Regions from separate parts of the Homo sapiens genome. Here regions 2 and 3 are each linked to region 1. The links come from fine-mapping of genetic effects on gene expression. A gene starts in region 1. Each other region holds a variant in brackets. All regions are shown on one strand. Distances are between the middles of the regions. Region 1 holds the start of NOL10 (nucleolar protein 10). Region 2 overlaps NOL10 (nucleolar protein 10). Region 3 has its middle 110 kb from the start of ODC1-DT.

Evidence for each region.
Region 2: its variant is fine-mapped to the expression of NOL10 in whole blood (INTERVAL, PIP above 0.99).
Region 3: its variant is fine-mapped to the expression of NOL10 in whole blood (TOPMed, PIP 0.94).

Annotation. Positions count from the first base shown.
Region 1 is chr2:10,685,702-10,695,941 of GRCh38, forward strand. NOL10 (nucleolar protein 10) reads right to left here and starts at 4,274. Exons shown (of 21, transcript NM_024894.4): 1 at 4,095-4,274. The coding sequence starts at 4,160. It also overlaps the pseudogene RN7SL832P. RefSeq lists enhancers at 3,721-3,780, 3,841-4,120.
Region 2 is chr2:10,645,187-10,655,426 of GRCh38, forward strand. NOL10 (nucleolar protein 10) reads right to left here. Exons shown (of 21, transcript NM_024894.4): 12 at 9,295-9,361. Among named protein-coding and RNA genes, the nearest start is that of NOL10, 40 kb to the right of the region's middle. RefSeq lists an enhancer at 8,770-9,969. The variant T/C (reference allele first, on the strand shown) is at 4,717.
Region 3 is chr2:10,554,249-10,564,488 of GRCh38, forward strand. No RefSeq gene overlaps it. Among named protein-coding and RNA genes, the nearest start is that of ODC1-DT, 110 kb to the left of the region's middle. The variant C/T (reference allele first, on the strand shown) is at 5,576.

The DNA.
Region 1 (10,240 bases):
CATTAAACAAATATTTATTTAGTACTACTAAATGCCAGTAATTAGGTATAGCAGTAGTAAATAAAACAGGAGGGAAAAAAAAGCCCTCTTGGCCAAGTGCAGTGGTTCATATCTATAATCCCAGCACTGAGGCAAGGGGATCACTTGAGCCCAGGAGTTCGAGACCAGCCTGGCAATAAAGTGGGATCACTGTCTCTACAAAAAAAAAAAAGCAGCTGGGCATGTTGGTACACACCTGTAGTCCCAGCTACTCAGTAGGCTGAGGTGCAAGAATCATTGAGCCCAGAGAAGTCAAGGCTGAGGTGAGCCATGATTGTGCCACTGCACTCCAGCCTGGGCAACAGAGTAAACCTGTTTCAAAAAAAAAAAAAATTTAAAAATCTAAAAACCCCTCCTTTCATGAAGCTTTCTTTCAAGTGAGGGAACACCAACAAATAAGGAAGTAAAACAATTAGAATGTCAGATGGTTATGTATGCCATGGAAAAAATAAAGCAAGAAAAGGAGACGAAGTGTTGGTGGAGAATTATAATTTTGAATAAGGTTAAGGTCCTCTTGAGCAACGACCTGAAAGGCATGAGGAGGCAAAGCCTGGAGAACATCTGGGAAAAAAGCAGGCAGGCAGGACCTGTGCCAAGGTCCTACGGCAGGAGTGTGCCTGGTCTCGAGCAGTGAGACTTGTGAGGCCAGTGTAAGGTGGAGAACAGTGACCGCTGAGCTCAGAGAGGAGGGCAGGAAGGCACAACATCAAGTAGGACCTTAAAAGTCACTCAAAGGACTCTGCTTTTCACCCCCAAGAGAGCAGGAGCCACTGGACAGTTCTGAGTAGAGGATCACCCTGGCAGCTTACTGATAACAGACTGTGGAATAAAGGGGTAGAGGGTGGAAACTGAGAAACTGCTTAGAAGTCAACTGCAATAACTGCAATTGCATAGTCAGGGGTGACAGTGTCTTGAATCAGTGACAGTAATGGAGGTGACTGGATTCTGGATCTATACTGAAGATAGAAGCAACAGCATTTTCTAGTGGATTGTATGAGAGCAAAGAAACAACAACAAAAAGCCTCCAGTGTTTTTGGCATCAACAGCTTGCGGGATGGAGTTGCCACTGGCTGAGGGAGGGAAGACCACTAGGTTGCAGGAGGGGGAAATGTGGGGGGAAAGCTGGTGTTCTACTTTGGACAAGTTAAGTTTGAGATGCCTATCAGACATCCAAGCGGGGATGTCAAGAAACAGTTGGATACACAAGTCCAGTTCAGAGTAGAGGTAAGGGCTAGAAACATCAATGTGATAGTTATCGATATGCAGATGTGCTTAAAGCCAGGAGACTGCCTAGGATCACCAGGGGAGTAAACGTAGAGGCTTCTCTACATTAATAAAAAGGTAAAGCCCAGAAGGAGAGAAGCAATATTTGCACAGATCAGACAACAACTGGGGTTCCACGTGTAGTTTAGGCACCACACCTCAAAGAAATAACCAGAAAATATTAAACAGGACAAGCAGGGGTTTCCAAATCCACTCAGCTCAAGCTACCCTCCCCACCACTCCACTGGAGCTCCTTGCCAAGGTCAAGGGCGCTCTGCATCATGCCAAAGTCGATGGTCATTTTTCTGCCTTCATCTTACTGAAGCTCTCAGTAGCAGCTGACACAGGTGACCACCACCTCCTCCTTGAAACACTTACTTCTACAAAACTACACATTTCCCAGTCTCCCCTTCCATCAGTGCCCACTACTCTTTCTTCTTTGCTGGGTTCCCCTCCTCTTCTTGGATGACAAATGCTAAGACTGCCTCAGGTCCTCAGCCTAGTTATCTTCTCTGTTCTTTCTCTCACAATTTGATCTCACCTAGTCCCAAATAACGACAGTAAATTCACCTGCAATCTCCATCCTAGTATCCATGCAACTGCTAACTACTCAACATCTCCATTTGGTATGTATTAGAACTTCAAATGTTCACTATTGAAAATAAAAACCTTGGGCCGGGTGCAGTGGCTCATGCCTGTAATCCCAGCACTTTGGGAGGCCGAGGTGGGTGGATCACAAGATCAGATCGAGACCATACCGGCCAACATAGTGAAACTCCGTCTCTACTAAAAATACAAAAATTAGCTGGTGTGGTGGCACGTGCCTGTAGTCCCAGCTACTGGGGAGGCTGAGGCAGGAGAATCGCTTGAACCCGAGAGGTTGCAGTGAGCCAACATCAGGCCATTGCACGCGACCTCAAAAAAAAATCTTGATTCTTTTTGCTCACTACGTTCCTCCTCTCCACCTTTCAATGTGTTCCTTCTTGATTCTTCTCCATGTCAGTTAGCAGCACCACCGTGCACCCACTTGTTCAGACTCAAAACTGAAGAGTTCTCTGATTCCTTCCTTTTTGTCACCTCAACTTCCCTCTACCAACAGTCCAATCCATTAGCAAGTTCCATTACCCTATCTACAAAGTATGTCCTGAATCTCACTGTGTTTTAGCATCTTCTTTGTTACCAGGCAAGCCCAAGCCACCGAAGTCGCTCACCTGGACTACCTAATTCATCCCGACTTGAACCCTCCCCAGCTAGACATTTGTCGCACAGCAGCCCACACAACAGTGACTTCCAGCAGCACTAAGAATAAAACTTGAACTTCCTACCTTTCCTACCAGGCCTACCTCTCCAGCCTCATCCACCCTGCTCTCGCCCCCTCACTCAGCATAGTGCAATCACACCTGTGCCTCTTCCGTCCTCCTACATGTCCAGTGCATTCCCATGTGGGGCTTTTGCACTTTCTGTTCTCAGCACTGAAAACTCTTCCCCACATCTTCACACGACTGGCTCCTCTTCATCATCCAAGTTTCTGCTCATATGTCACCTCTTGTAGAGAGGCCTTCCCCGAAGGTTTTATCCAAAACACTTTCTCTCAATATTTTATCCAAAACAGCTCTCTTCTAATCATTCACCACGAAAAGTACTTTTTGACTACCTTAAATTGCCTTATTTGCTCACTTGTTTATTTCCCTTTTCCCCAACAGGGAACCTTATCTGAAATGTCCACTATAGATCCCAATACTTAAAACAGAGTTGCTTGCACACAGTAACTTCTCAATACATGTGGAGAATGAATGAACAAAATGAGAAAGCTCATGGGGTGTGAAGAACAACTGGAAGACAGGGAATTATTCAAACCAGAATTTTAGGAAGAAAGGAAAAACCTAAGCACTGGCTCCAAATTTTTGTAGAAGCAGACGCATGGAAGGAGAGCTATATTTATTCTGTTTTCCAAGGGCAGGACTCAGGCCAACAGTGGCATGCTATAAGGTGACATATTTGAAAACCACTTTCTAACAAGTGCAGAGTCTCAAAATGGAAATGAGCTTCCACAAAAGGTAGTGCTCAGTGGTAGTGCTTGGACAGAGGCTGGATCATCACGTATAAGAAACAAAAGACAAGTTTCAGAGCCTAAGTGTGTCATGCTGGACAAGTCACCCTTCCCCTTGCTGGATCTCAGCTGCATATTAAACGCATTATTAAATCTCAGCTGCATTACTAAACACGAGAAGATTGGAAGAGAATTACCGACTTGTCCAAGCCCTCTCCAACTTTAAGACTAGGAATCAGGTTAAGTTCAACAAGTCTCGAAAATACTGTCCTCTACACCATAAATTCTGCAGATGCGAAGTCTGTATCTCCCTTGTTCACTGTTGTATCCCTAAGACCTGGCAAATGATAGGGACTCCACAAACAGCTGATGGCCATATGGGGGAGAGATGTGTCAACGAATCTGCCACGTTTTCCTCCTCGATGTACGGCAGGGACTGTGAACACCCAAAGAGGCCCAAATGGTTGCGTTCTCTGGAACAGAGAACTTTACAAAAGTTCCAGCAAAGCTCACTGACCCTGATTATCCCTTGGTCCAGTTTCTGGCGCGGTGACGGCAGTGTCCTTGTCTCCCAATGCCGACACCTCCCCCGGAAATTGTCAGCCGCCTCTGGGCCTCCCCGAGTCGGGGGGTGACCAGCGTCCAGCTAAAACAGAGGCTAGGGCCGAGGAGAGGGGCGGCTGCCCCACGAGGAGGACGACCCCCAAGAGCTCGAGAGTGAGGGGGCCGGGAAGTGACTCACCTCAGGAAGGGACTTGCCGCAGCTGAGGCTGTAAATCTTCACCTCATTGAGGCTGGAGACCTGCATGGCGCCGCACAACACTGTTCAAGTCCCGGGTCCTTTCCCACCAGCGTGCTCGAGCACCGTAATCCCGGGACCTCCGAGCCCCTGCTCCGCGGCGTGCGGCCGCTGGCGCCGACTGATGACGCACTTCCTGGAGCCGGAACACGCGGGCAAGTTCCCGGAAGAGGGAAGGTGGCTGAATCCGGGAAGAGCGGCGGCCGGGAGAAAAACTAGTGAGGCTCTGACAACCCGGCGTGGCTGTCGGCGACGCTGCTACGGGCAAGACTAGACACAAGCCGGGCGCGGTGGCTCACGCCTGTAATCCCAGCACTTTGGGAGGCTGAGGCGGGCGGATCACCTGAGGTCGGGAGTTCGAGACCAGCCTGACCAATATGGTGAAACCCCGTCTCTACTAAAAATACAAAAAAATTAGCCTTGCGTGGTGGCCGGCATCTGTAGTCCCAGCTACACGGGAGGTTGAGGCAGGAGAATTGCTTGAACCTGGGAGGCGGAGGTTGCAGTGAGCTGAGATCGCGCCGCTGCACTCCAGCCTGGGGGACAGAGCGAGATTCCCTCTCAAAAAAAAAAAAAAAAAAAAAAAAACTAGACACAGCTCTCCCTGCTGTTAGCATCCCGAGCGGCAGGAGGAGGCTTTCGAGTCTCTGCCCAGGCCGAGATGTCATCCTCCCGGGCGGGGGCGAGGCAGTTCAGCGAGTGAACCCAGCGAATGAAGGCGACCAGGGTGCGAATTCCGAGTGGAAGTGTATTCTCTTCTCTCCTCCAGTGTTTCTGCGATGTTACGTTAGAAGTACTGTAGGCCGGGTGCGGTGGCTCACGCCTGTAATCCTAACACTTTGGGAGGCCGAGGCGGGCGGATCACCTGAGGTCAGGAGTTCAAGACCAGCCTAGCCAAGATGGTGAAACCCCGTCTCTACTAAAAATACAAAAATCAGTCGGGCCTGGTGGCGCGCGCCTGTAATCTCAGCTACTCTGAAGGCTGAGGTGGGGGAATCGCCTGAACCCGGGAGGCAGAGGTTGCCGTCAGCTGAGATCGTGCCACTGCAGTCCAGCCTGGGCAACAGAGTGAGACTCCGTCTCAAAAAAAAAAAAAAAAAAAAAAGAAGACTGTGGCGTCATCTTCAACCCATTCCTATCTCTGGCCCTCACTTTCAGTATCTAAACCTGGATATTTCTAATTATGAAATATTTCCTTAAAGTAATCTGTTTTCATTCCTCCTGCTGAAACTCAAATACTTAACTATTTTTGGATTATAACTTTCCCAAGTGATCTTCTTACTTCCTTTGATTTAATGAACAAATTATTTTATGCCTTACTTTCTAAAACCCAAATATTATTGTTTTGCTCTCCTACCCACAACATTTTGGAAACTCTCAAATACCAACACCACATTGCATCAGAATTAGGTTGAGAGTTCTTCGTGGACCCTATATCATTTGTCCTTATATTCCCTATCCACCCCATCCACCCCTACCCAGAGTACCAGAACAGTGCCTGGCCTCTATTAGGCATTGCTACATATTTACATTTAGCCATGTACGTAGGGATATATTCCTTAACTCTGTCCTCAAATTTAAGATCCTCCACAAATTTTTAATTTTCTACACTGGTTACAGTTAAGAAAAACTGTAAACATCTTTGGGAAAGGTGGCATAATAGAATGGTTAGATCACAGACTCTGGCTTGGCTTGGTGGTGCAGGCCTATTGTCCTAGCTACTAGTGAAGCCGAAGCAGGAGAATCACTTGAGCCCAGGAGTTCTTGGCTGTAGCACGCAACGAGCGTTGGGTGTCCTCAGTTTGGCATCAATATGGTGACCCCACAAGAGCCAGGGACCACCATGTTACCTAAGGAGGTGTGAAGCGGCTCAGGTCAGAAATGGAGCAAGTCAAAACTCCCATGCTCACCAGTAATGGGATCATGCCTGTGACTAACACTGTACTCCAGCTTGGGCAACACAGCAAGACCCTATCTCTTGAAAAATAAATAAAGATCACAGACTCTGAAGCCAGACTGGCAAGATTCAAATCCCGACTGCCATTTTTAACTGAAAGACCTTAGGTAAGTTACCTAACCTCTCTGTACCTGTGTAAAATGGAGATAACAGTAGTATCCACTTCACAGAGTTATGAGGATGAAATACATTCATATTTATAAAACGTTTGGAACCCAGTACTTGGCACATAGTAAGACCATGTAAGTGTTTGTAAAATAAAACTGAAAATAAAGCCATATACCAAATAAGTGGAAATGTATCCAAATTCCATTAACATTTCCTTTTTAACAGTTTTATTGAGATATAATTAACATACTGTAAAATGTCCCCATTGAATGTACAATGTAATGACTTCTAGTGTATTCAGAGTTCTGCAACCATCACCACAATCATTTTTAGAACAAAAAGAAACCCCAGCCTCAATTAGCATTCACTCCATGCCCCATCCCCCACCCAAGCCCTAGACAACCACTAATCTACTTTCTGTTGGCGTTGTGGGTTTTTTCCATGGGGGCATCTCACTTTGTTGTCCAGGTTGGAATACAGTGGCATGATCATGACCCACTGCAGCCTCAAACTCGAGCTCAAGCTGTCCTTCCACCTTATCCTCCTGAGTAGCTGGGAGTACAGGCACACCACCAGAGCTGGCTGTTTTGTTTTTATAGAGATGGGTCTACCAGTTAAGCATCCCTAATCCAAACATTTCAAGTCCGAAATGCTCCAGTGAGCATTTCCTTTTGAGCATCACATTGACATTCAGAAAGTTTCAGATTTTGGAGCATTTTAGATTTTGGATTTTCAGATTAGGGATACTCAACCTGTATTTTGTAAGGGCACCAATCCCATTCATGAGAGCTCTGCCCTTAAGACCTAATCATGGGCTGAGCACGGTGGCTCACGCCTGTAATCCCAGCACTTTGGGAGGCCAAGGCAGGCAGATCACGAGGTCGGGAGTTCAAGACCAGCCTGGTGAACATAGTGAAACCCCTGTCTCTACTAAAAATGCAAAAATTAGCCGGGCATGGTGGCACGCACCTGTAGTCCCAGCTACTCAGGAGGCTGAGGCAGGAGAATTGCTTGAACCCGGGAGGCAGAGGTTGTGGTGAGCAGAGATGGCGCCACTGCACTCCAGCCTGGGCAATAGACCGAGACTCCGTCTCAAAAACAAAAACAAACAAACAAAAAAAAACTAATCATGACCAGGCGCAGTAGCTCATACCTCTAATCCCAGCACTTTGGGAGGCTGAGGCGGGCAGATCACTTGAGGCCAGGAGTTCTAGACCAGCCTGGCCAACACAGCAAAACCCTGTTTGTACTAAAAATACAAAAATTAGCCAGGTGTGGTGGTTGGCACCTGTAGTTCCAGCTAATCTGGAGGCTGAGGCACAGGAATCGCTTAAACCCGGGAGGCGGAGGTTGCAGTGAGCCAAGATTGTGCCATTGCACTCCAGCCTGGGCAACAAGAGTGAAACTCCGTCTCAAAAAAAAAAAAAAGGCTGGGCATGGTGGCTCATGCCTATAATTCCAGCACATTGGGAAGCCGAGGAGGACAGATCATGAGGTCAAGAGATCGAGACCATCCTGGCCAACATGGTGAAACCCCATCTCTACTAAAAATACAAAAATTAGCTGGGCATGGTGGCACACACCTGTAGTCCCAGTTACTGAGGTGGCTGAGGCAGGAGAATCGCTTGAACCCAGGAGGTGGAGGTTGCAGTGAGCCAGGAGGTGGAGGTTGCAGTGAGCCAAGTTTGCGCCACTGTACTCCAGCCTGGCAAAAGAGCGAGACTCTGTCTCAAAAAACAAAAAAACAGAAAAGTGAGTTTACGCCATAAATCACTGATTTCAGGACATTCATTTTTTTTTAGCATCTCTGAAAGGATGAGTCTAGTGTATCGTGCATATCTTGAGGGAATGGTGCATCTTATAGGTAATGGTCTTTTAGAGTCAATAAAATAAAGTGCATATAAAGCACTTAGAACAGTGCCTTACACAGAACACTACATAAGTGCTAGTTATTAGAAAACCAAAACATTAAAAACTATTCCAGAAAAACTAGTTGTTACAGATTCCAACTAACCTTAAATGTTCTGCTGTTAGTTGCCATTCCAGAAACCTTCAAATAACATTCAAGCTTGCTCTCCTAAATTTTTTTTTTTTTCTGAGACAGTGTCTCACTCTGTTGCCCAGGCTGGAGTGCAGTGGCGGGATCTCAGCTCACTGCAACCTCTGCCTCCCGGGTTCAAGCGATTTTCCTGCCTCAGCCTCCTGAGTAGCTGGGATCACAGGCGCATGCCACCATGCCTGGCTAATTTTTTAGGCTAATTTTTGTATTTTTAGTAGAGACGGGGTTTCACCATGTTGGCCAGGCGGGTCTCGAACTCCTGACCTCAGGTGATCCTCCCACCTCAGCCTTCCGAAGTGCTGGGATTACAGGTGTGAGCCACCGCGCCTGGCTCCTCTCCTAATTCTTTACCTCCATGGCCAGTAGGTCTCCGAAGCATTTGGTTCCTTCTTTCCAATATCAGATTCCTTCTCTGTTCCTGCTGCCGCAGGAGTTCAGACCTCATTGTCTCCTACCTGGCCCACTGTAGTCCCTTTTCCTGTTCTCCCAGCCTCAAGTCTGCCTCCCATAAGAGACAAACTCATTCTCTCTAACAGGCAAATCTGATTATGGTGCACTCCTACAAAAACTCTTCAATCCTCCTAAAGCCAAAAAGAACACACCTGAAGGTCGAGTACAGTGGCTCATGCCTGTAATCCCAGCACTTTGGGAGGCTGAGGTGGGTGATCACTTGACCTTAGGAGTTTGTGACCTGCCTGGGCAACATGGTGAAACCTTGTCTCTACAAAAAATACAAAAAATTAGCCAGGTGTGGTGGCACATGCCTGTAGTCCCAGATACTTGGGAGGCTGAGGCAGGAGGATCACCTGAGCCTAGGGAGGTCAAGGCTGCAGTGAGCCATAATCGTACCACTGCACTCCAGCCTGGGTACCAGAGTGAGACCCTCTCTAGGAAAAAGAAAATACTACATTCGAACACCTTTGCAGGTTCTGGCCTTATAGGCACCTGGCCCCTCCTTCCTTTTCCAGCCAGTGCCGAAGCTGCTGCCTCTCTCCTGCATTCACTACCCTCTCCAAAAATCCTGGATTACTGACAGCCTGAAAAATACAAGGCCTCTCTCACCCTCTTCTTGCCTTTGCTCCTGCTCCTCTGGCTACTTTTAACACCCTCCTCTGCACAGTGCTGTGGTTTGAATGTCCCTCCAAATCTCACAGTGAAATTTAATCTCCAATGAGGCTGTATTGAGAGCTGGGGCCTAGAAGAAGTGATTGGATCATGAGGACTCTGCATTCATGGATAAATGGGTTAATGGATTCATAGGTTATCATGGGAGGGGAACTGGTGGCTTTATAAGAAAAGGAAGAGAGACCTGAGCCGGGACACTCAGCTCCTTCACCATGTGATGCCCTGCACCGCATCGGGACTGCAGAGTCCCCATCAGCAAGAAGGCCCTCTTCAGATATGGCGCCTCGACCCTGGGCTTCACAGCCTCTACAGCTGTAACAAATAAACTCTTTTCCTTTATAAATTACCCAGTTTCAGGTATTCTGTAGTAAACAACAGAGAATGGACTGAGACACCTGGGTAACTCTCCTGAATCTTTCTTCCCCTGCAAGAGGCCCTAGAGATCAAAGTTCTCATTGTGTATCATCTCACTGTTTTGTTTCTTAAACTAGGGCTTACAATTTTTTTTTTTTTTTTTTTTTTTTGAGATGGAGTCTCCCTCTGTCGCCCAGGCTGGAGTGCAGTGGTGAGATCTCGGCTCACTGCAACCTCCACCTCCCTGGTTCAAGCAATTCTCTGTCTCAGCCTCCTGAGTAGCCGGGATTACAGGCAGCCACTACCATGCCCAGCTTATTTTTGTAGTTTTAGTAGAGATGGGGTTTCACCATCTTGGCCAGGCTGGTCTTGAACTCCTGACCTTGTGATCCACCCACCGTGGACTCCCAAAGTGCTGGGATTACAGGCATGAGCCACCACACCTGGCTGTTTTTTTTTTTTTTTTTTTTTTGAAATGAAGTCTTG
Region 2 (10,240 bases), 41 kb before region 1:
CCAGTCGTGAGAGAATGTTAAAGCTAAAGTCAAACTCAAGAGCGCCTGCTTTTAAATAAAGACTTCTACAGATCAGCTAAATAAGAATTCATTTTAAAAATCTATTTGTAAGATACAAGAGGAATCCACAGAGAGAAGACATTTAGATTATCAGATCACATAATGATAAATGAATATACCAAATGTTAAGGGCAATGATTAGATTCTGTTTTTAAAAATATTTTTTGCTGCCTTTCCTTTTATTAACACAAAAGTTTGTAAAAGTGATGATATTTGACTCTATTACAGAAATGAGATGCTGAGTGAATAGAGTCAATTACCACTCAAGCAGGAACTCAATACTATCTTTTTTTTTTTTTTTTTTGAGACAAGAGTCTTGCTCTGTTGCCCAGGCTGGAGTGCAGTGGCGTGGTCTCGGCTCACTGCAAGCTCCACCTCCTGGGTTCACGTCATTCTCCTGCCTCAGCCTCCCGAGTAGCTGGGACTACAGGCGCCCACCACGCCTGGCTAATTTTTTGTATTTTTAGTGGAGGGGGGTTTCACCATGTTAGCCAGGACAGTCTCAATCTCCTGACCTCATGATCCGCCCGCCTCGGCCTCCCAACATGCTGGGATTACAGGCATGAGCCACCGCATCTGGCCTCGATACTATCTTACCAAAACCACGTCTTGCCAATAACTCAGAAGTGTGAGCTAGCCCTGAACTGGGACCAACAGGTCACCAAAAATATATGCACACAAAACACACACACACACATACACACACACACACACACACACACCCCGTAAAAACATCTAAAAGCACCTAATGAAGTCTAAAAAAGCAAGAATAATGTCTAAATTAAACCAAAACAAAGTCAGAGCTGTTTTTCATAGCTTGTAACTCTTGTAGAATCTTTCATCTTAGCACTTTTTCTGGCCTTCCAAACAACGTTCACCGAGGTCATGATGGACAGAAACTGCCTCTGCTGATTGTGCTTCCTAGGTCTCCACTAACAACACTGCTGAAAGATCTCCAGGAGCCTTTGGACATAATTAAAGCAGTTCTGGAGACAGAAGCCACATCTTCACAACCAAAAGGAAGGTTCCTAATAAAGACCTCTCCTAAGCCTTCTCCACTGGCTCAACCCTGAACACTCAACAATGAACATTCCACAATGAAATACAACACCACCTACCAAACAAACCACGGAAAGGGCTCTAATGTAATTACACAAAAAAATTCAGACTGGACACAGCTAGACTGTTTTCTAAAAATGGAGGAGGATCTCACACAACCACATACGGCTAATGATACAAGCAGGTCTACTACCAAACTCAAGTGAGGAGGGTCAGGGCTGAAAGCAATTATGAATGAGAAAAAGAACATCATAGAGCCCAAAGAGTATGAGCAGCTTCTAACAGGCAGAAACAGAAAAATAAACCTGTGAAAGAAAGCCTTAGTTCAGCAGAAATTAAGATGATCAAGGCAGGAGAAGAGAAGAGCATGAGCATCGCGCCAGGCAAGTCACATTCTCAGCAAGTTACCTCCCTTGCTCAGGGCCACCACATAGCTAGTAAGTAGAGCCACTGACAGTCTACCAATTCCAAGGCTCATAACATGGGACTCTGACACTTCATCAACTAAGGTAAAATTAAAAGACCTCCTGCATGATCAAGTAAGAAACCATTTTAAAAAAGTCAGTATGAATACCACATGGCAACGTGAAAGATGTGTTTAATATAACATCAAACTGAAAAGCAAAAGATAACCGTAAGTACAGTGTGAGGACAACTTAAAACATATGAACACAGAATTAATATGGTTTCACCCATGAAGACAGTAATAGTACGTGACAGTACGTGTAAAGAGATTATGGCATTGAGGACTTTTTTCCTTTAAATTTATTTTAATGTAGTTTATCCACAATAAAACTATACATTTTTAAAGGAAGGAAAAGATATCAGCACCTGGAGTCAAAAGAACACATTTCCAATATGACCCAGTACACTATAGTGTATAGTACGCTGTAATAATACAATAAAAGAGAATTTGACAAAATAGTGCCCTCCCCAGAAACATGCACAAATCAGTACTCATCTGCATGTGCTCTGGGGACTAAAGGACTCACTGAAGTTCACAACACAAACACAGTGCTCTACAGCTGCTCAAAGTGTGTCCCCAGTGACAGACTGCAAACTGTTACCAGGCCAGGAAATAAGTGCAGAAATTGAAAAGAAGCATTTAGAAACCTGCAATTCAACACTGCAGTGACAACCAAATGTGTGATCATTTTCCTAGTAATTCATTTGTATTGTCTTTTACAGACGTATCAACGTGCAGTGGATTAGAAAATTCGAAACAAAACAAAAAACCAAAATCCTGGTCCTTCACCACACGTGTTGGGAAGTGCTGCGCAAAAACATATGGCATCAGTCACCACCTTGAACAGCTCAGAGGAGACAGGCTGTGCACGCAGAACTGTGCCAAAGGGGACTGGCAGGGGCGCTCCTGCCCTATTTAGAACCTCAGATGAAAGTATGGGGCATTTGAGTTTACTATACAAGGCACCAAAGATATTTATAGATGGCTCTAACAGTTTTCCATGTATTTAGAAGGCACTGACGGAATAAAAGGCTATTTCACACTTATCAGTACAGGTAGTCTTCAACAGCCCTGTAAGGCAGGTGAGAATTCCGAGGTTGGGTAATTTCTACCACTATTAAGCCTGAATTGGATCTTTCTTGAGCCCAGTGCCCCTGTTCTTTTCTCTCTACCATGGTTCTGAAACCACCGATGCTGATTCCACAGGTCTGGAGTGGGACTCAAGACACACGTAAGCTTTACAAGCTCCCCGTGTCATGAATCTGATGCACACCCAAGTCATAGAGCCGTGCTGTCTCTTCAAGTGCCCTGACCGGCATGGAGCAGCTGCTCACTGTACAGGTGGCTGATGAGCCATAGGAGCAGGGCCCTGAACAAGGCAGGAAGGCAGAACCATTTCCCAATATACTGAGCAGCCTTGGTATAAGAAAAATATTACAAAACCATAATCATGATTATGCTTCAATTACTCCAAAATGAGTAAGTGAAAAGAAAAAAGAAAGACAGTTTCAGCTTTTCTAAACTATGATTAAGCCCACAATGATTAAGCACCAGACACAAAGAGTTGAACGGGAGGAAAAGGTGTGGGAAAGCAAGGAAAAGCGGAGTGCAATCATCCGCCACACTCAGATCCAAGCCACAAAGAAGGGGCGCCTACGGGTCTTGTTCTGCCTGCTCTCTTATGAAATAAATTATTTGGCTAGCTTTTCTACTCTTGATTAACCTCTTACGAGTTATTAGATAGTAACAGTCATTCCTTTGTCCAAAACATCATGCTTAAAGTTGCTGGTTTGCAAGAAACTGTACTTTGTAATGACGACATCACTTAACAATGGGATCAACCTTACCCCTCTCCAATACTGCAACGACCTGGAGACCTCAGCAGCCTGCACATTACTCTTGCCCCAAATTTAATCTAAACTTAATTAAGTCTTTAGACTTAACTTCTATTTTAGAAAAAATACACGGTAGAGGATCAAGTTAAACAACATCACGAGAAAAAAAAATCACATAAATCGAGGATGAAGGATATTCTGAGACCACTGGCCTGATCTTTGAAAAGTCAACGTCATGGAGAAGAAAAGAAAAAGATGTGGGGGACTATACTGGATTGAAAGAAACTAAAGATACACAACAGCGAAATGTAACACACAACCTCAGTTATATCCTGGTTCAAAAAAACACAAAAAACAAACAAAAAAACCACACCTAACTAAAAAAGGGCATATGGGGAACAATTAGGAAAACCTGAAAATGGACTGGATGTAAGATAATATTAGAAAAGGGCTGCCATTTTTATTAGGCACAATAAGGGACCTAATAATTTCAATGATTTTCAGGAGATCAATGCCACCCTGGGTGCAGGTGAGTGCCACCATGTCTGCAGCTGGCTTTCGAGTGATTCCACAAAGAAACCACAACAACCACAGAAGCACAGAGATAAATAAATCAATTATGGTGAAGACAACAATAACAAACATTGAGGAGAGAATATAAAGATGTTCATTCTACCAGTTTTTCAACTTTTCTGTATGTTTGAATTTTTTTTTTTTTTTTTTTTTTTTTTTGAGACAGAGTCTTGCTCTGTCGCCCAGGCTGGAGAGCAGTGGCATGATCTCGGCTCACTGCAACCTCCGCCTCCTGGTTTCAAGCAATTCTCCCGCCTCAGCCTCCTGAGTAGCTGGGATTACAGGCACCTGCCACCACGCTCAGCTAAGTTTGTATTTTTGGTAGAGACAGGGTTTCACCATGTTGGCCAGGCTAGTCTCGAACTCCTGACCTCAAGTGATCTGCATGCCTCGGCCTCCCAAAGTACTAGGACTACAGGCATGAGACACTGCGCCTGGCCTGAAATTCTTCATAATTAAATACTGTGGATAAAGTGACCATTTTTGTTTATATTAGTAATATGGACCAGGGGTCAGCAAACTGTCTCTGTAAAGGGCCAGGCAGTACACACTTCAGGCTCTGCAGCCCCCCTGGTCACTGTTAAAACTACTCACCTCTGCCACAGTGCTGCAAAAGCCACATGGACAATGTATAAACGAACAAGGGTGGCTGTGTTCACATAAAACTTTATGCTGAAAGACACTGAAATCTGAATTTCAGTCACAAAAATTTGAATTTCCATG[T/C]CATAAAATATTACTCTTCTTAGATTTTTTTTTCCAACCATTTAAAAATGTAAAACCCATTCTTAACTCAAAGGCTGCAAATTACCAAGTGGTGGACTGGATTTGGCCTATAGGTCAGTTTGCCAAATAGACTTTTTAAAATGCTACTCATTAAGAATGTTTTCTGACCAAATTGTCAAACATTTCTTCATAAATATTACTTTAATAAGTAACTATTAAAATCACTGTGCTATAAATGCTTCTACAATTAAAATGTTAGCAAGATAATTTTTTTTTTTAGGTCTTGCTTTGTCACCCAGGCAAGAGTACAGTTAGTTTCAAGATCACAGCTCACTATAAACTCAAACTCCTGGGCTCAAGCGATCCTCCTGCTTCAGCCCTTAGAGTATCTGGGACTACAGGCGCACAGTGCCACTGCTTCCTGCTAATTTTTTTTATTTTTAGTAGAGACAGAGTCTTGCTGTGTTGACAAGGCTGGTCTTGAACTCCTGGCCTCAAGTGATCCTCCTGCCTCAGGATTATAGGCATGATGGGATTACAGGCGTGAGCCACTGCACTAGGCCACAACAATCTTCATTAAATAAGTGTTTTGGGCGTTTTTCCCAGAGAGAAACACTTTTAAATTTCATTTAAAAGCATGCTTATTTTTACAATTTTTATGCCATTTTAAATGACAAATCATTTAAATTTTTATCGTGAGGCCAGGGGAGAGCCGGCGTGATGGTGCGTATCTGTAGCCTCAGCTACTCAGGAGGCCTAGGCAGGATCGCTCGAGCCCAGGGGTTCAAGGCTGCAGTGAGCTATAATTGTGCCACTACACTCTAGCTTAGGTGACAATGTGAAACCCTGTCTCTGAAAAAATAAATAAATACAGACCAGGCGAAAAAATAAAATCAGCATTCCAGAGATGCGTAGTTGAATTATCAGCACCCTCTCAATCCATTTTAAGTCTCTTCCTCAGCAGTCACCTGGGTAACAACATGCACTGCTAACATCAGCCTCCCTCCTCTCCTTGTCCTTGTGATTCCAACCACTGTCGTCAGTGGTGGCATTTCAAGAATGGGTTCCTCAACAGTCTGAGCCTGAGTATTTCTCAGAAAGAGGCTTCTTTGCCAAGTAGTCACACCCTTTGTGGGTTAAGAGATCTTTACAGCCATTAAAGGTGGGGGAAGAGATGCACAAAAACTGACCTGAGAAATCAAGTTGCCCACAAGAGTCCACCCTCCAGCCCTGCCTCCTGGAGAAGCTGTTTAGGCACACAGCCTGCGGGGGCCAACAGATTGGCACTCATTTCAGCAGGTGTCTCTTTGGGCTTCTATATCCTTGGTTACAATGGAAAAACTGAGGCAGCCTACCAGGCTCAACAATCCCCGCTACACTGGGCCAGGCACAAGCACTACTAAACCTTACCAGCATCCTCAAGGGTTGAAGCTCTCCCAGTTTAGACCAGCACTGTCCAATGGAAAGAGCATGTGAACCACATATGTGATTTTAAAATTTTTAGTAGCCACATTTTTAAAAATGGTAAAATTAATTTTAATATATTTTACTAATCCAACAGGTCTAAAATATTTTCATTTCAACATGTAATTAATAGAAAATTATTAATGATCTATTTTACATCCTTTTTTCGTAGAATGTCTTTTAAATCCAATGTATATTTTATACTCACAGTACATGTCAATGCCCACGAGTGGCTAGTGGCTACCAAACTGTACAGCCCAAGGTAAGACTCTTTCTCTCCCAACTCTCTGTGCCCTTCAAACTGTCACTCCCCCAGTCGCACTATCCCTGCTCGTCACCCTTGCCCCAACCTCAGCTCCACCTGATTTACTCACTTACCTACTTAACCGAGACCCTGGTGTAGGTCATTTCAATACCCTAACTAGGACCCAGCATCCTCAGCTGCAATCTATTCCTGAACTCACCAGAATTTCACTTTACTCCCATGATTATAATAAAATTCTCTCAACTATTACAGATGAAATGCAAATTATAAAGTCCAGGGTTTCTCATCTTTCTTGGGAGAGCAGTGTGCAATTAGAAACAGCATGGGCAGCTGGGCGCAGTGGCTCACGCCTGTAATCCCAGCACTTAGGGAGGCTGAGGCGGGCAGATCACGAGGTCAGGAGTTCGAGACCAGCCTGACCAACATGGTGAAACCCTGTCTCTACTAAAAATACAAATATTAGCCGGGCGTGGTGGCGGGCACCTGTAATCCCAGCTACTCAGGAGGCTGAGGCAGGAGAATCGCTTGAATCCGGGAGGGGGAGGTTGAAGTGAGCTGAGATTGCGCCACTGCACTCCAGCCTGGGGGACAGAGGGAGACTCTGTCTCAAAAAAAAAAAAGAAAAAAAAGAAAAAAGAAAAAACAGCATGGGCACCAGAAACAGGAAGGCTGGGTTCTAAATGAGGCTCTGCCACACACCAGCTGGGTGACCAACCCTGAATGAATTACCCAATTTTTCTGACCCCTTAAGAGGTAAGAAAAAAACAGAAAGAAAGAAAAAAGAAAAAAAAAAGCCATGGACCACTGACTACACAGTTATAAAATATTAAATAAGTTTGTATTACAGCATCCATCATCCAGATTGATAACAGCAGCATGCAATCAATCTTAGTTCTTTCCTTCCTGCCCCAACTTCTGTAATCCTTAGTAGTTGCTAAGCAGTGCCCACTGAATCTCTTCCATACTTCAAAAACCGTGGGGCCTGGCACTGTCGTTCTGTCCATTCCCATCCGGTTTCTCAGCTGGCTCCTCCCCCTCATTCTCCCAAATGAACCAGCTCCTGCTCACTTCTTATCTCACTCCCAGCTTTCCCTATCAGTAATCTCATTCATTCCCACCACTTCTGGGATAATCGCAAAACTTTCTATCTACAGACCTGCTTACCCCAAGACCACATTTTCTACTGGACGCCAGACACGCCCCCCAAGCACAAGTCTGCGGATCGGTTCAGGGCTTGCCGCCTAAGAATCCACCGGGAAGTGTGTTAAAAACACACGTTTCTGGCCAGGCGCGGCGGCTCACATCTGTAATCTCAGCATTTTGGGAAGTGGAGGCAGGCGGATCACTTGAGGTCAGGAGTTTAAGACCAGCCTGGCCAACATGGCGGAACCCCGTTTCTACTAAAAATACAAAAATCAGCCAGGCGTGGTGGTGCGTGCCTGTAGTCCCATCTACTCAGGAGGCTGAGGCATGAGAATCGCTTGAACCCAGGAGAAGAGGTTGCAATGAGCAGAGATTGTGCCACTGCGCTCCAGCCTGGGTGACAGAGCGAGACTCCAACTCAAAAAAAAAAAAAAAACCACACATTTCTAAGCCCTTTCCATAGACACTATGAGTGAGTACACCTAGTATAAGGTCAAGGGAGCTGTACCTTTAAAGCTGTGCAGATGATTTTGATGGGAAGCCAGATAGTGCCAGATACTGCCACTGTCCTGTCACCTCCTAATCCTCACACGTTAGAAAAAGAAGCCATAATCTTTCCAAACTTGCTCTCTCACCTGTGCTCCCCATCTCAGCTCAGAATATCAGTTACTTCCAAGGCACTTTTGTCCAAAACCAATCTACCCTTTGCACAGTGGGTAGACCTGCCTCTGAAAGCACAGTCGGAACAAGTCCTCTCTGACAGCACACGGAGCCCAAGACATTTAGCACATCATGCCCAACCCTCTACCACCCACCACTCTCTGCCTCCCACTTCAGCCTTCCCAGAGCCACCACAGCTCAGGCACAGGACACTCCTCCCCACCCCAACCGAGCCCTCTGTGCCCATCCTTTTTGGTCATCTTGGACTGCTCTCCCATGAGAATCACCTCAGCCCCCCAACTCCACCTAACCAAATCTCACTCGGCACTCCAGCTCAACGCAAAGCAAAATCTTCTCACTGCTCCGCTCTCGGTGGTCACAGGGTAAAAGCTCTCTCTCTCCAGCAAGCTGTCAAAGTACTCTTTGCACAAATGTGATAGGAGTTCTCACGCTCTGCCTTACTTCTCTCTATCAAGATGATCTGGGTACCTCTGCCCTCAGAGTAGAAACTATTCTCATTTTTCTCCCATACTCTGAAATTCTTCACAGATTTGCCTTGAATGCACTGTTAAATTTTGAAACCTAACATGTAAATTGCTGAATAGCATACAACTTAGAATTTACAAAACCTATGGCTTCATGAGCCATCTGTGTATTATCAGGCAATCTAGCTTTCTCCAAATCTCTACCCTCAATTTCCACACACTATTACTAATCACATAAAAGAGCTAAAGAGCACACTAAAATAGCACTTCACCTGCCTCCTACCTGTATGCTGTTACCACGTTCCACTAATAGCTGGGCGGGCTGAGCACTGAGTCATTAAGAGTGCCATTTTCTGAATCATCCACACCACTTCCTGCTCTTAATTCTTCTAAGTAAGTTAAATATCCAAGAATTGTGCTGACAAAGCCAAATTCTATCTTAAGAAATAAAATGGGTTTAAAACCTAAAAAAGTATAGCCTTTTTATTTGTCTCACTGAACGTTCACTACAGAATGCATCTTTTTATTTGTCTCACTGAACGTTCACTACAGAATGCATACCTGAGTTGGGGTAGAGACAAACATCATTAAGGTCATGCTCTGGCTCCAAGGAAGTAAATATTTTTCCCTAAAAATAGCAAGCAAAAACGAAGTATTAAAAGTTAAAGAACAACAACTTTGGCAATGTCAAACTGAAGCTGTAACTCAACCATCTACTCCTATGTAAAGAAATAAAATAGCCTACTTCAAATACAAAATTTAAATTCTTAAAAATCTTAGAGAATTTATCTTATCAATTTATCAAAAAATCCCATTTTATAGATGAAGAAACAGGCCTAAGGAGAAGAAGTGACCTGTCCAAAAAAAAGAAAAATTACAACATTTTAAAGATAATGTCAACATGGCAAGAAAAGATGAAGTTTGAATTATGCATCAACTTTAAAAAAAAATCTCTCATAATCTGTGAAGTGTACCCAGCTTAACTTGTATTGAAAGAAATCGGAAGACAGCTGGGAGCAGTGGCTCACACCTGTAATACCAGCACTTTGGGAGGCTGAGGCGTGGAGATGACTTGAGGTCAGGAGTTTAAGACCAGCCTGACCAACATGGTGAAACTCCGACTCTACTAAAAACACAAAAATTAGCCGGGCATCGTGGCCTGCAACTGTAATCCCAGCTACTAGGGAGGCTGAGGCAAAACTGCTTGAACCCAGGAGGCGGAGGTTATAGTCAGCCAAGATAGCACCACTGCACTCCAGCCTGGGGCGACAGAGTGAGATTCTGCCCAAAAAAAAAAAGAAAGAAAGGAAGAAAAGAAAGGAAGGAAGGAAGAAAGGAAAGAAAAGAAGGGAAAGAAGGGAAGAAAAGAAAAAGGAAAGGAAAGGAAAGGAAAAAAGAAAAGAAAACAAACCAATCAGAGGAGAGAGATGGCCAGCATGGAAAATGAGGACAACACTGCCATGCCTGCACCGCAAGGTTTCGAGGAGGATCAAGTGAGACAATGGAT
Region 3 (10,240 bases), 130 kb before region 1:
CTCCTCGACAACACCACGTTAAGTGAAAAAACCAGACACAAAGGGACAGACTCCTCGACAACACTACGCTAAGTGAAAAAACCAGACACAAAGGGACAGACTCCTCGACAACACTACATTAAGTGAAAAAACCAGACACAAAGGGACATGACTCCTCGACAACACTACGCTAAGTGAAAAAACCAGACACAAAGGGACATGACTCCACTGATATGAGGCACCCGGAAGAGGCAAATTCATAGAGAGAAAAGTCCAGTGGCGGTTACCAGGGGCTGGGAGGAGGAGGAAATAGAGAGTGTTTTGTGGGTGCAAAGTTTCAGCAGGGGATAATGAACAAGTTCTGGGGGTGGATGTTGGTGATGGCTGCACAACAATGAATGGATTCCTGCCACTGAGCTGCATGTTTGAAAATGGTTAAAATAAGGCCGGGTGCGGTGGCTCACGCCTGTAATCCCAGCACTTTGGGAGGCCGAGGCGGGTGAATCACCTGAGGTCGGGAGTTCAAGACCAGCCTGACCAACATGAAGAAACCCCATCTCTATTAAAAATACAAAATTAGCCTGGCGTGGTGGTGCATGCCTGTAATCGCAGCTACTCAGGAGGCTGAGGCAGGAGAATTGCTTGAACCTGGGAGGCGGAGGTTATGGTGAGCTGAGATCACGCCATTGCACTCCAGCCTGGGCAACAAAAGCGAAACTCCGTCTTAAAAAAAAAAAAAAGAAAAGAAAATGGTTAAAATAGCAGAGGAATTCTCCCCATGCAAGGGACAGGCCATTTCTCCTTGTCTGATGAAAAGTTCTGCAGATGCCCCAGGTGACAGTGTGATGCTTGTTGAGCAGTGGGCCAGGCCCAGCCTGGGATAGGGTCCCAGTGTTGTGATGGAGGGGAGGCTGGTGTCCAGGACGCCAGGGGCACCCAGTGCTCCTTTGGGTGCTGGCTTCACGCGTGGAAGTCGCGCAAGAGTCACGGAGGTAAATTCAAGTTGAGTCATTTGCAGGATGTGCAGAGCGGGGTGGGCCCTCCAAACTTGGCAACCTTGGAGGAAATGGTTTTATATTTTTTGACTCTCATGTAACCTAGACACTCAGCTGGGACTCTATTTCCTATTTCAAGACTTTTCCAAACAGTTGTGTTTCCAAAGACCTTCCTAAACACACAGCCAGGGGAAGGAACAGGACCTGCTGCTCCAATTCCCTCGGCTCCCAACGCCCCTCAAGTGTTTGCACAGGAAAATGGTAGCGTAGGACACCAGGCGGGCAGGAAGCCGCAGGAATCTCAGAAGCTGCTTTCTGGATTTGACCTCAGGCAATTAAAAAATAGCAAAATAGATGGTGAGTGAAGAGGGTTTATGAGCTGCAGACCCGCAAGGCTCTTGCAGGCACCGAAAGACACAACGGAGAGTCTGCCTGTGCGCACGCAGGCCTAGCAACCAGCATTTGCTCATTGTGCATTCCTGCACTCTCGGGGAACTTAGGGAGCCTCCCGTGGGGCAGGCAGAGGCTGGGAACTAGAGCAGGAAGGCCCGCGGGTCCATCCCATGGTCTCACTCCCTTTCCTCTTGTCCCCTTCCCCTTGGGGCATTCCCAAGGCTGCAGATACCGCTTACCGAGCGGGGCCCTGGCGGGGAGGGATGCGGGCCACAGCCAGATGGGACATCTGGTTGCTCTCTCCCGAAACACCCAACTCATTTCCTTCACCCTGTGTGGCTGCAAGGGCCAGCTGGCCTCCCTCCGGGGGTCCCTCAGCGTAAGCCGGTGGGGAGCTCCGAGGCTTGGTTTCTTCTGTCTCAGCAGACCATTTGCCTTGGTGCCTTATATTGTGTCTTTTTTTTTTTAATGGATTTTAATTTTTCCAACAGTTTTGGATTTACAGAAAAATTGAGAAGATAGTACAGGGAGTTCCCATAAACCCCACATCCAGGTTCCTCCATTATTAACATGGGGCATGAGTCCGGCCCATTTGTTCCGATGAATGGACTGACAGTCATTCTTCAGGTCCACTGTTGGCTCAGATCTCCTCAGTTTTCACCTTAAGTCCTTTTCTGTTCCAGGATCCCCTGCAGAAAGCCACAGGCCATTTAGTCATGGCCTCTTTAGGCCCCTCTGGCTAGGACAGTTCCTTGGGCTTTTTTTTTTTTTTTGTCTCCCTCTTTAGACTGGGAGCTCCTTAAGAGCAAAGGTAAAGCTCGCCCCCGCGAGTCCCCCCATGGTGCCTGACGTCACGCTCTGCCCATCCCAGGCCTCCATGGGTGATGAGAGGCCTGAGTTGAGGCACCAGCCCCAAATGTGTGCGATCACGCCATTGAGCAGGGAGAGATGGGGCTGGGGGGAATTTCACTTGCTTTTGTTACATTTCTGTAACATTTATGTCTTTAAAAATAATCAGCATACGTTTCTCTTCCAATTAGGAAAACTGCAGCAAATCAAGCCGGGAGCTGGGGCCTGGGCAGTTCATGATCTGGCTGGGTTCCCCGCTCAGGCAGTTCACGCGCACAGACCGCCCCCTGGAAGAACTGCGGCTGGAATGAGCAATTCTCCTGAGAAAGCAAAGACACGGACTCACAAGGGAGTTCTGGGCAGAAACGGAGACGGAGATTGGAGTGAAGCGTCCACAAGCCAAGGAGTGCCAAGGAGTGCCAAAGATTGCCAGCAACCCCCAGACGCTGGAGGAGGCCGGGAAGGAGCCTCCCCAGGAGCCTTTGGAGGGAGCAGGGCCCTGCTGACACCTCGATGTCAGACACCTGGCCTCCAGGACGGTGAGAGCGGGTTCTGTTGTTGCGAGCCACCCAGCTCTTGGCACTTGGTTACGCGGGTCACAGGACACCAGTAGAGCCATATCTACTCATTCATTTCAGAAACGTTGTGCCAGTACGTACCAGGCACTTTCAAAGACACCGGGGATACGGAAATAAAGAATAAATGGGATCCTTGCTCTCAGTGGAGTTTCCATTCTAGTAGAGGAAGATGAGCAAAAATAAATAAATGATAACTTCTGTCTGGGCGCGATGGCTCACATCTGTAATCTCAGCACTTTGGGAAGCTGAGGCGTGCAGATTACCTGAGGTCAGGAGTGCGGGACCAGCCTGGCCAACATGGTGAAACCCTGCCTCTACAAAAAATACAAAAATTAGCCAGGTGTACTGGCACACGCCTGTAGTCCCAGCTACTCAGTAGGCTGAGGCAGGAGGATCGCTTGAACCCGGGAGGCGGAGGCTGCAGTGAGCCGAGATTATGCCACCACACTCCAGCGTGGGCGACAGAGTGAGACTCAGTCGCAAAAAAATAATAAAAATAAATAAATGATAAGCTATGACAGCAGGGAGAGCTGTGAGATCCACACAACAGAGGTGTCAGAGAGGGTGTGGGTTCCCTTAGGCTGCCCTTGCCAGGCACTACAAGGTGGGTGGCTGAAAAGGAAGCACCACCAGGCGGCGACTGGGTTCGGCCCATGGGCCATTGTTTGCCGCCCTGCTCTGTATAACAGGTGCCTCTCCTGGGGGCACACAACGGGCCATGCTGATCTCCCTGTTTTGTAGGGGGAAAGTGAGGCAGGAGGTTGCCTGACTGGTCCCTGAGCAACCATGGGCGTGGACACAGGCACGTCTCTCCAGAGTTCTTTCTGGTTGGAGGTGGCTTGTCTTGGTCCATGGACCTGCAGGGCCTGACTTCTGATGGGAAGGAAACTCGTAGCCACTCTGCTGGGGGACAGGGTCTCTGGGCAGAGCGCCAGTGTCTTCTCACCTGTCCCAGAGCCCTGGCCCACAGCCTCCTCCCACCCTACCTGGCTCTGTCCTCCGCTGCACCCAGGCTGCATTTCCAGGAAATGCCTCTCGTTTCCCCACACAGGGAAGGAAGCAGGAGGCCCTGAGCCGGGATCAGCCTCCAGCTCAGCTCCCAGGAAAATGGGTGCACCTCGCCTCACCCCTACCCTTGGGCCCACCCTGGCTGAGGCTCAGATCACCACATGCGCAGCTCTCCTTGGTCCCATGCCGACTGGAGGCCAGAATTCGGGCTGTTTTGAGCTAATACAGATGAGTTTCTTCCCCTCTCTCATGCCCTTCTCCATTCATTCACTTATTCATTAAGCCTGTATTTAGTAAGCACCTGCTGTGCACAGCGCTGTGCTGGGCGGCAGGTGCCTTGATGACGAGGCCTTGCCATGGAGTGTCCACCTCGTGGCCGCCAGGCCCTCCAGGGCACAAGTGTCTTCACAAGACTTAGGCTTTGAAGGAAAATGAGTCCAGTTTGGCGGGACTGTGGGAAAGAGGGGTGCTCCACTCCACGTCCAAGCTGGACAGGAAGACCCCACCCTCCCCAGGAAAACCAGGCAACGGGAGGCTCACCTGACTCCACCTTCACAGTGTGAGGAAACTGAGGCAGGGGCTGAGCGGCAGCTTCCGAGACCCTCCAGCCCCTGGTCCTGCCTTGGCTGCGACTGGGCCTGTGGCACAGCAGGGACACCACAGCCCAATCGTGAGCAGGAACATGGGGATATGTGACCCCCTCAAAGCCCCTCTTAGCAGAGGTGGGGCTCTCAGACCTGAGCAAGATTCTGCTCATGTGGCCCCACACAGACAAGGGGTCCTGCTTCCTGCACTCCAGGAGGTGTGTGAGGTGCCTGTGGTGGGTCCAGCCCTGAGAAGAAGCAACGGCGGAGTGACAGGGTCTTTCCTGTCCAATCAGGACCATGGAGCTAGAGCAGCACCTGAGGAGCTTTGTGTCCTCATCCAGGGCCACAGTCCCCATTGCCCCATTCATTCAGTTGCTGCTGCCTGCCAGAGACTCACATGGAGCCTCTGAACATGGCGTGCCCCACGTCCCACTGACAGCGCTGTGTGTGCTCCTGTTTGTGGAAACCAGGGCAAGGAGGGTGAGTGACTTGTCCACTGTCATGCAGCTGCTGCGCGGTGGGGCTGGGATTGCACCCAGGGACTGACCCAAGCCCCTGCCCAGCCCCAGGACCCCAGATTCTGGGCTGGCCCCTGTGCCTGAGTTTTAGGACCCCCACCACCGCCCCAGCATTGCCACGCTGTCTGCGTTTCTAGGCTGAATTTTGTTCTCATGGAGGGAGGGACCGTCCTACCTCTTATGCACCCACACCCCCATCCTGCTGCCCGGGACAGTGCCAGGCTGCCGGGGGCATTTGATGAGATGTGACGTGTAAAGAATCTGATGGTGCCTGGTACAGAGTCGTTCCTGCAGGATGCTCAGCCTCACCCCTCCCCGCCCATCCCGCCAACATCTCTGGCCCAGTGCAGACCCAGCATAACCATAGATGTGGGTATGGCAGGAGCATTATTCTGGTGGGTCCTGCCCACAGGACAGTCCTCTATCCGCATGACAAGATGCCACCACAGTGGCCTCTACAACGTACAGTAAGCACTCACTGTATGTACAGCAGGAGTAACCGTGCTCTTTGCCATGGCAGAAGGTGGCAGTCGCAGCAGTGTTGGCTGTCATGGCTGCTGGTGAGGCGCTGCGCCTCTGTTACAATGGGAACCAGCAAAATGAAATTTACTTATTGTTGCAAGATAATAGCCAAGCCTTTTAAACATATGCTTTTCAAACAAACTCAT[C/T]GCCATGGTAACCCTCTTAAAACAAGATGCAACCTGGCTTAAAGACCCTGAGAGCTAATTCTAGTAGTGCTTTGTATTTAGTTACGCCTTTCTTCTGAATTTAATGGACTTCACTCACTAGGCTCCACTAACATCCTCTGAAGTCTTAGGGGACAGATACTATTAAACCCATTTTACAGATGTAGACACCAAGGCACGGACGGGTTAAGTGACTTGGCCACTAACTGAAATCTTCGCCATGAGCAAGTCCGGACCAGACCCAGGTCTTGTTTCCTTCTGTTGTCTTCACTCATCAGACCGTCCTGGACTTTGAAAGCCCATCATCATGAAAGGCTTAGAGTTTCCCACAGCTTGGCCTGGGGAGCCCAGATGCTGCTGCCATTTGCGTGCAGGGAAGGCTGCTGGGCCAGGAGGCTGCAGAGGCGAGCAAAGGGCAAGGAGGAAGTTGTGGCTGAGGTTCCCGGGATGAAAAGATCCCCACGGAGAGCTCCATGGGCTGGGACAGCAATGCAAGGACCCAAGTGCCCCACAACTCACTCTGGTACAGCTGACACCAAGCCACACCCGCCGGATTACAGGGGAATCTTTTACTCCCTGCCAGCCCCAGGGGCCAATGGCGTCTTCCTTGAGCATCCGGGCAAAGCCCTGCCTCGGGCCTTTGCACCAGCCAGTGGTTCTCAGGTGGGGCCCCAGGCCAGCTGCAGCAGCAGCATCTGTGATGTTGGAAATGCAGGTTTTCTGCCCCCACCTCAGACCCACTGAATTAGAAACTCCACCTTACATGCCCTCCAGGGGCTTCTGATGCACCCTGGAGATCTCTGCCTAGAATGTTCCTCCCGGATACCCTGGCCAACTGCCTCCCCTCCTTCCAGGCTTTGCTCACTTCTCACCTTCTCGGAGAGGCCTCTTCTGAGCCAGCCGATTTCTTGCATTCTCAGCCCTGCCCTCCCAGCTCTCCTGCCTGCCCAGTGGCTCGTGTGGCCTGCATTGTGTCTACTGGATGCATCGTCTGTCTCCCCCGTGAAACATAAACTCAAGTAAACGGCTCTTTTTGCTGAGTCAACTGCAGAGTGCTCGATAAGTAGTGCTTGCAGGAACTGTGACTTCTGGCTCAGGTTGATAGACGGGCGAATGAGGAGTAGCAGCAAGTGTTCGGGTGGGTGGGATGGGGTGGATGAGTTTTGCTTTGAGCATGTGGAACTCAAGGTGCCAGCGGCCACCCAGATGAAAGGCCCAGAGGCTATCTGGGAGGCAGCTCTGGGACACTGAAGAGAGGTGACACTATGGAAGGAAGAGTGACAGGCTTAAAGAAGACATCCTGGAGCATGTTAACACCTGCGTGGGTGAGGATGAGGAGTCGGCAGAGACCAAGGAGGCCGAGGACAAGAGGGAAATGGAGGCCGTGTCGAAGCTCCCAGGGAGGCTAGCAAGGCTGGAGATCAGGAGATGAGCTTCCTCTCCCACGAGCTTGAGTGGTGAGTGGAGGGGACTGGAGGTGGGTCCCAGCAAGGAAAGGGGTGATGTGCAGAGGGAAATGGGGACAGAGAAGGGAGCGCCAGGAGAAATCAGAGCAGTTCTGCAGAACCCTGGAAGGCAGACCTAGCAAGGGCAGGAGGAAGCTAGGGAAAGGGCGGGGAGGGAGGTTTTGATTCTCCAAATCTCAACTCACAATGAGATCATCTGAAATGGGAGAGAAGGCAACTCGGGAAATCCAATCAGGTAGGCGTCTCAGCCAGTTCAACTAGAAGATCCCTCAAATCCTGAGAGGCTGAGATTCGTGATTTTGTCCTACATTGGAAAGAAACCTAAGGCTACCAGAAAAATATAGTTGGCCTCCCTCCACCCTACCGCTTTGAAGTTCCATCTGGGTTTACAGAATAGTCACAAACAGGGTCTGCAACTGACAACAGTGAGAGAATAATAACTTCCTCGTGCATTAAGATGTGCATCTGGGACTCCCATTGGGCAGGATGCCCAGGGAGTGGGGAGGGTTCCACCCCCTGCAGGGAGCTGCACACCCGGAGCCCGCACCAGCATGGTGACCTGTGTCCCTCCTGACACTCCTGCCTCAGGCCGTCCTATCTCCAAGGGTAAGGACTGACATTTTCTTAGAAGTTTCCATTCACCCAGTATGTGCTCATGGGGAACAACAGATGTTTTGAGTAGGAGGCAGCATGCTGGCCAAAATAGTTCTTTCAAATATTAACTGTCAGATTTGTTATTGCATTAATTTTGGAAAATGTACACGTTAATAAAAAAAAATTGTAAGATAAAAATTTTCAGGACTGAAAATTTCCCCACGTTCAAAGAGATGTGTAATGTCCTAAATCAAGCTACTATAATTATAAATGGTTAATATAAGGAAACTCCAAATAAAGGCAATTACACTATTTCCCAAGGGGAAGAAAAAAAATTATGCCAACTTGTATATATAAACTTTTTAGGGATGTCAAAGAAATAAGCAAATATTTACTCACGGTATTTATTTATACATACACTTTAAAAATCACGTATTCTAACACTTTGCTGTTTCCTTCCAAAGTTTTGAATAGAATTCAGTTGCTCCAAGACACACATTCATTTACATGTGGGTTTTTTTTCTTTACTAAAATACATTTACTTTTAGTATTCTCAAGTGCAAAAGAGAGTTGAATCTTCTATTGCATATGAAATGGAGACTAGTCTTCCACAAAGAGTAAAATGAAGTTTTGTAATGGCCATCATCTGTAATTGCTTACAATGACAGCATAAACTCTAGGATTTTGTTTTAACTTCATGGCTACATGGGTAAAGTTAGGTTTGAAAATCATTTCAAAAACAAAATTTATCAAACAAAAAACCTGGACAGGTTTTTATTTTTTATTTTTTTGAGATGGAGTTTTGCTCTGTTGCCCAGGCTGGAGTGCAGTGGCGCGATCTTGGCTCACTGCAACCTCTGCCTCCCAGGTTCAGGTGATTCTCCTGCCTCAGTCTCCTGAGTAGCTGGAACTATAGGCACCTGCCACCACATCTGGCTAATTTTTTTGTATTTTTAGTAGAGATGGGGTTTCACCATGTTGACCAGGCTAGTCTTGAACTCCTGGCCTCAAGCGATCTGCCTGTCTCAGCCTCCCAAAGTGCTGGGATTACAGGCGTGAGCCACTGCACCAGGCCCTGGATAGGTTTTTAACACATTGAAAGTTTTCCTTAGAAAGAACCACAAAATCTTTTAAATTTTCCTAAAAAACCCTATAACTATTCCATAAAATATATTTTGTACTTAATTTATGCTGAAAATAGAGCTTTGAAAAAAATAATTAAAAACTCATCTCGTGTCTTCAGTCAAAAAAAATTCTCATAAAACTCCAGCAAAACGTTTCATTACACAATTTATCACATTACAATAGGAAGAATTACACATTTGGGGGACACATTTCAGTATGGGCTTTGTCAACATACTCCTGCAAGAATGCCATCAGTTGATTAGGGTAGTAGGCAGTGATTCTCAACTCGGGGTTGGAGCCCTCATTAGTGGGTGGTGGAACCATAGTAATGGGTGTGAACTTTTTTGGGGGGAGGTGTAAAGGAACTAGAGCAGGACTGGATAGAAAAATAACAGCGTCCTTTGTATGATGCAAGATAACAATTTTCTAATACCTTTGATGTACGTGTATTCTGCACCATGATGTCAAATGGATTTCTTACTGTGGGACAAAGTAAAAAAAACATTGAGGGAGGCTGAAGCACAAGAATCACTTGAACCCGGGAGGCGGAGGTTGCAGTGAGCCAAGATCGCGTCACTGCACCCCAGCCTGGGCGACAGAGTGAGACACTGTCTCAAAAAAAAAAAAAAAAAAAAAAAAAAATTTTGCCAGGCGAGGTGGCCCACGCCTGTAATCCTAGCACTTTGGGAGGCTGAGGCGGGTGGATCACGAGGTCAGGAGATTGAAACCATCTTGGCCAACATGGTGAAACCCTGTCTCTACTAAATATACGAAAACATTAGCTGGGCGTGGTGATGCATGCCTGTAGGCCCAACTACTCGGGAGGCTGAGGCAGGAGAATTACTTGAACCTGGGAAGCAGAGGTTGCAGTGAGCCAAGATTGTGCCACTGCACTCCAACCTGGTGACAGAGTGAGACTCCATCAAAAAAAAAAAAAAAAAAAAAAAAAAAAGAGAAAAAAGAGATAGAATTTTGGAAACCCAGAGAGGCCATAACAGGGAAAAGAAAAAGCAGGCCAGGTGCGGTGGCTCACACTTGTAATCCTAGCACTTTGGGAGGCCAAGGTGGGTAGACTGCCTGAGCTCAGGAGTTCGAGACCAGCCTGGGCAACAACAGTGAAACCCCATCTCTACTAAAATACAAAAAATTAGCTGGTCATGGCAGCGTGTGCCTGTAATCCCAGCTACTCAGGAGGCTGAGACAGGAGAATCACTTGAACCCGGGAGGTGGAGGTTGCAGTGAGCCGAGATTGTGCCACTGTACTCCAGCCTGGGCAACAGAGCGAGACTCCATCTCAAAAAAAAGAAAAAGAAGAAAAAGAAGAAACCGGGTTTCTCAACTCCATGTCCTGTGCTTTTCTGACTCTGCAAGAGCCAAGAGGTGTCTTCCTAGGATGGTCACAGGGAGGTAATTCCCCCAGCATGGAGGGTCTGAGTCAAGGGTAAGCTCTGTGCAAGGTGTA